Regions from separate parts of the Homo sapiens genome. Here region 1 is linked to region 2. Evidence: fine-mapped QTL for protein levels in blood plasma. A gene starts in region 2. The other region holds a variant in brackets. All regions are shown on one strand. Distances are from middle to middle.

The links. PIP is the chance, under the fine-mapping model, that this variant and not a neighbour inherited with it causes the effect. The UK Biobank Pharma Proteomics Project read protein levels with antibody pairs (Olink). The fine-mapping took linkage between variants from a reference panel, not from the people measured, so its PIPs are less certain.
Region 1: its variant is fine-mapped to the plasma level of the TGFB1 protein (UK Biobank, PIP above 0.99).

Annotation. Positions count from the first base shown.
Region 1 is chr19:41,317,755-41,320,692 of GRCh38, reverse strand. It overlaps CCDC97 (coiled-coil domain containing 97), which reads right to left. Exons shown (of 5, transcript NM_052848.3): 3 at 841-1,119; 4 at 223-352. Among named protein-coding and RNA genes, the nearest start is that of CCDC97, 9.1 kb to the right of the region's middle. RefSeq lists an enhancer at 24-761. The variant G/A (reference allele first, on the strand shown) is at 1,407.
Region 2 is chr19:41,352,888-41,355,387 of GRCh38, reverse strand. TGFB1 (transforming growth factor beta 1) reads left to right here and starts at 1,466. Exons shown (of 7, transcript NM_000660.7): 1 at 1,466-2,500. The coding sequence starts at 2,344. B9D2 (B9 domain containing 2) reads left to right here. Exons shown (of 4, transcript NM_030578.4): 4 at 375-971. The coding sequence ends at 688. RefSeq lists enhancers at 589-1,090, 1,014-1,163 and silencers at 1,164-1,693, 1,844-1,913, 2,214-2,293, 2,454-2,500.

The sequences.
Region 1 (2,938 bases), 35 kb after region 2:
CCCCTGCCTTAGAGGTGAGGAGACTGAGGGTCTGAGATGGACAAGGCTAGTCCGAGGTCACCCAGCCTCTTCCTTTGGCTGTTCAACCCCACATCCTGGAACTGTTTTGGGGCCTTGTAGCTCCACAAAGGGAGACCCCCACAGCTTGTTAAGGGCTCTGCATGTGACCAAAGGCCGTGGGATGCTGGGCTGGGGGATGGGGAGGTGGAGGCACAGGAGCACCTGTAGTCAAAGTCCCCGTCCTTGCCATCTAGGAAGCGCTGGTGCATGCGGCTGGTGAACTCCTCTCGCAGGATCAGCCTCTCCTCCGAGTCGGGAACCCAGGCCTCCGAGTCCTTGCCTGACCTCTGGTCTGCAGAGGGAGAGGAGAGGGGGTGTGAATGCGGGTGCACTCGGGCAGGCACTGAGCACAGAGTCCACAGAGAGCTGCTGCTCCTGTGCCCAGCCTTGCGCTGGGTGGCTCTGGGAACACACTAGTGACAGAGATGGCCCTGGTCCCTGCCCTCCAGGGACACGCATAAAACACATGACCATATAGTGCTCTGGAGACTGTATCCTCGGGTCAGGATCTGAGACCTGAAGGGTGGGAGGAGAGGCATTCCTGGCGGAGGGAACAGCCTGTCCAGACCTGGAGGCGAGGGTTCATTTGGTGCCTCAGAGTGGGGGATGGGGATGCTGCAGCGGTTGGAAGGGCATACACAGAGAGTCAGGCTGGGCAGGGGAGGGACGCAATGTCGGCTTTTGCAGGTTGGGGGCCCAGCCTGCTGCCATGAAGTGGAGACAGACAGGCCTAGGGCTGGGGTGTCTGGAATCTGGGGTCTTCCTGCTACTGGCCCTCACCTTCCTCGTCACTGTCCTCCTCCTCTTCCTCTTCCTCCAAGCAGGCCTCCTCCTCCTCCTGCTGTTGGAGCAGACGCTGCTGTAGCTCCCGCTCCTCGTAGGACTGGAGCAGCAAGTTGGAGAGCGGGCAAGCAGGTCTCCCGGGGGACCCGGGCTTGGGGGGCTGGTGGGTTGGGGTGCGGGCACTGAGCTCCTCCTGGGTGAGATACTGCCCGATGTACTGCTCATATAGCAGGGGGGCCCGGAACCGCATCTGCTCATCACTGAAGTACTCGCCCCCTGCACAGAGGAGAGACAGGGTGGGCATGGGGTGAGCGACTGAGCAGATAGTGTCCATGTGGGTATGTGTGTGATCATGCTTGTGGGATGATGTGCATACACAGTCCAAGTGTGTGTATGCACACATTCAAAAACACAGGAAAACATGCAGGCACCTGAGGTGCGCGTGAGTACTCATGCAGGCGCCTGAGGCGTGCGTGTGAATAATGCAGGCGCCTGAGGCATGCACGTGAATACTCATGCAGGTGCCTGAAGCTGTGTGCGCAAGCACTCATGCAGGCACCTGA[G/A]GTCATGTGCATGTGATTACTCGTGCAGGCACCTGAGTGTGTGTATGTGGCCCGGCCTCTATCTTCCTGTGTATTCATGTATTCATGCATCCAAGCATGTGTGTGCATGGGCAGACCTGGCTACATCCTGGCCTCTGAGGCTCTGACGGTCTGGAGCTCGTGTACAACTGTGTCCAGGCACGATGCACAAGCTCCTGCCCATGGACGTGTACATGGCCTATGTACACACACATGTCCTGTGAGGCCCAGCATATGCCCACAGACACCTGTCTGTCTGGGTGTCAGCATGCAGGACAATGCAGCAGAAGTTGTGTGTCTCTAGGTTGTGTGCCTGTTTGTGGGGCCCTAGTCTGGCTGGCAGTGGACACGCCTTCACTGTGGGGCGTGTATGTGTGTACATCCACGTGGATTTGGCATGTGTGTGCAAGGGATCAGGTCAGGTGGGGCATCTGCCCGTGTATCCCTGGGAAAGCCTCCTGGTGGTGGAAGGCCCTAGATCCATCCTCTCTCGAGTGCTCCTCTATGCAGCAACCCCTCAGGTGGGCCTGGCTTCCCCACTACCCCAAAACTTGAGTTCCCTGCATCACCCCTGGCTGCCTGTTTCTGCACGAGTGACTCTGTCCCTCAAATAACAGTTAAACCTGCCCTGGTCCCTCCCCTCCACTGGTCCTAGCCGTGTCTTCAGAGTCCAGGGCAAAGAAACTGCTCGGACTCCTGGCCTCTGCAGCACCATAGGCTGTGACTGTCCCTGTCCTGCTCAGCTTCCCCACTCCTGCCAGCAATCTTACCCCCAGCTGTTTGTGGCATCCTCTAGCAGACTCAGTTTTTTGAGATGGAGTCTCGCTCTGTTGCCCAGGCTGGAGTGTAGTGGTGTGATCTCGATTAACTCTAACTGCAACCTCCGCCTCCCGGGTTCAAGTGATTCTCCTGCCTCAGCCTCCTGAGTAGCTGGGATTATAGGCACCTGCCACAGTGCCTGGCTAATTTTTTTTGTATTTTTAGTAGAGCCGGGGTTTCACCATGTTGGCCAGGCTGGTCTTGAACTCCTTATCTCAAGTGATTTGCCTGCCTCGGCCTCCCAAAGTGCTGGGATTACAGGTCTGAGCCACTGTGCCCAGCCTCTAGCAGATTCAGTTTCTATCCCTCCTTCTCCCCAACTTGGATTATCACCCACCCCGGCTCTGGATCTCTCTCCATCTCTTCCTTTATCTCCATCTTTCTATCTTTCCTGCTTTTTTCAGTTTCTGTCACCTACCCCCACCTCATTCATCTTTCTTCTTTTTTTTTTTTTTTTGGCAACCTCCACCTCCCAGATTCATGTAATTCTCCTCCCTCAGCCTCCCAAGTAACTGAGATTACAGTTGCCTGCCACCACATGTGGCTAATTTTTTTGTATTTTTAGTAGAGATGGGGTTTCACCATGTTGGCCAGGCTGCTCTGGAACTCCTGACCTCAGGTCCACCCCCACCTCGCCCTCCCAAAGTGCTGGGATCACCGGCTTGAGTGACTGTGCCCGGCCCATCTTCCTTCTG
Region 2 (2,500 bases):
GACTGGAGGAGCAATGGGCTGCCCTGACATGGGGTCATGGAGGAGGATAACACAGAGAGGAAATTCAGCAGAGGTCTGATTAGAAGGGCCTTGAATGTTGAAGAGGTTGGACTTTATACTGAGGGCACTGGGGAGCTATGGAAGGATCCTTAGCAGGGGAGTAACATGGATTTGGAAAGATCACTTTGGCTGCTGTGTGGGGATAGATAAGACGGTGGGAGCCTAGAAAGGAGGCTGGGTTGGAAACTCTGGGACAGAAACCCAGAGAGGAAAAGACTGGGCCTGGGGTCTCCAGTGAGTATCAGGGAGTGGGGAATCAGCAGGAGTCTGGTCCCCACCCATCCCTCCTTTCCCCTCTCTCTCCTTTCCTGCAGGCTGGCCCCGGCTCCATTTCCAGGTGTGGTCCCAGGACAGCTTTGGCCGCTGCCAGCTTGCAGGCTATGGATTTTGCCATGTGCCCAGTAGCCCGGGCACCCACCAGCTGGCCTGCCCCACGTGGCGGCCCCTGGGCAGTTGGCGAGAACAGTTGGCACGGGCTTTCGTGGGTGGTGGGCCGCAGCTGCTGCATGGGGACACCATCTACAGTGGGGCCGACCGCTATCGCCTGCACACAGCTGCTGGTGGCACCGTGCACCTGGAGATCGGCCTGCTGCTCCGCAACTTCGACCGCTACGGCGTGGAGTGCTGAGGGACTCTGCCTCCAACGTCACCACCATCCACACCCCGGACACCCAGTGATGGGGGAGGATGGCACAGTGGTCAAGAGCACAGACTCTAGAGACTGTCAGAGCTGACCCCAGCTAAGGCATGGCACCGCTTCTGTCCTTTCTAGGACCTCGGGGTCCCTCTGGGCCCAGTTTCCCTATCTGTAAATTGGGGACAGTAAATGTATGGGGTCGCAGGGTGTTGAGTGACAGGAGGCTGCTTAGCCACATGGGAGGTGCTCAGTAAAGGAGAGCAATTCTTACAGGTGTCTGCCTCCTGACCCTTCCATCCTTCAGGTGTCCTGTTGCCCCCTCCTCCCACTGACACCCTCCGGAGGCCCCCATGTTGACAGACCCTCTTCTCCTACCTTGTTTCCCAGCCTGACTCTCCTTCCGTTCTGGGTCCCCCTCCTCTGGTCGGCTCCCCTGTGTCTCATCCCCCGGATTAAGCCTTCTCCGCCTGGTCCTCTTTCTCTGGTGACCCACACCGCCCGCAAAGCCACAGCGCATCTGGATCACCCGCTTTGGTGGCGCTTGGCCGCCAGGAGGCAGCACCCTGTTTGCGGGGCGGAGCCGGGGTGCCCGCCCCCTTTCCCCCAGGGCTGAAGGGACCCCCCTCGGAGCCCGCCCACGCGAGATGAGGACGGTGGCCCAGCCCCCCCATGCCCTCCCCCTGGGGGCCGCCCCCGCTCCCGCCCCGTGCGCTTCCTGGGTGGGGCCGGGGGCGGCTTCAAAACCCCCTGCCGACCCAGCCGGTCCCCGCCGCCGCCGCCCTTCGCGCCCTGGGCCATCTCCCTCCCACCTCCCTCCGCGGAGCAGCCAGACAGCGAGGGCCCCGGCCGGGGGCAGGGGGGACGCCCCGTCCGGGGCACCCCCCCGGCTCTGAGCCGCCCGCGGGGCCGGCCTCGGCCCGGAGCGGAGGAAGGAGTCGCCGAGGAGCAGCCTGAGGCCCCAGAGTCTGAGACGAGCCGCCGCCGCCCCCGCCACTGCGGGGAGGAGGGGGAGGAGGAGCGGGAGGAGGGACGAGCTGGTCGGGAGAAGAGGAAAAAAACTTTTGAGACTTTTCCGTTGCCGCTGGGAGCCGGAGGCGCGGGGACCTCTTGGCGCGACGCTGCCCCGCGAGGAGGCAGGACTTGGGGACCCCAGACCGCCTCCCTTTGCCGCCGGGGACGCTTGCTCCCTCCCTGCCCCCTACACGGCGTCCCTCAGGCGCCCCCATTCCGGACCAGCCCTCGGGAGTCGCCGACCCGGCCTCCCGCAAAGACTTTTCCCCAGACCTCGGGCGCACCCCCTGCACGCCGCCTTCATCCCCGGCCTGTCTCCTGAGCCCCCGCGCATCCTAGACCCTTTCTCCTCCAGGAGACGGATCTCTCTCCGACCTGCCACAGATCCCCTATTCAAGACCACCCACCTTCTGGTACCAGATCGCGCCCATCTAGGTTATTTCCGTGGGATACTGAGACACCCCCGGTCCAAGCCTCCCCTCCACCACTGCGCCCTTCTCCCTGAGGACCTCAGCTTTCCCTCGAGGCCCTCCTACCTTTTGCCGGGAGACCCCCAGCCCCTGCAGGGGCGGGGCCTCCCCACCACACCAGCCCTGTTCGCGCTCTCGGCAGTGCCGGGGGGCGCCGCCTCCCCCATGCCGCCCTCCGGGCTGCGGCTGCTGCCGCTGCTGCTACCGCTGCTGTGGCTACTGGTGCTGACGCCTGGCCGGCCGGCCGCGGGACTATCCACCTGCAAGACTATCGACATGGAGCTGGTGAAGCGGAAGCGCATCGAGGCCATCCGCGGCCAGA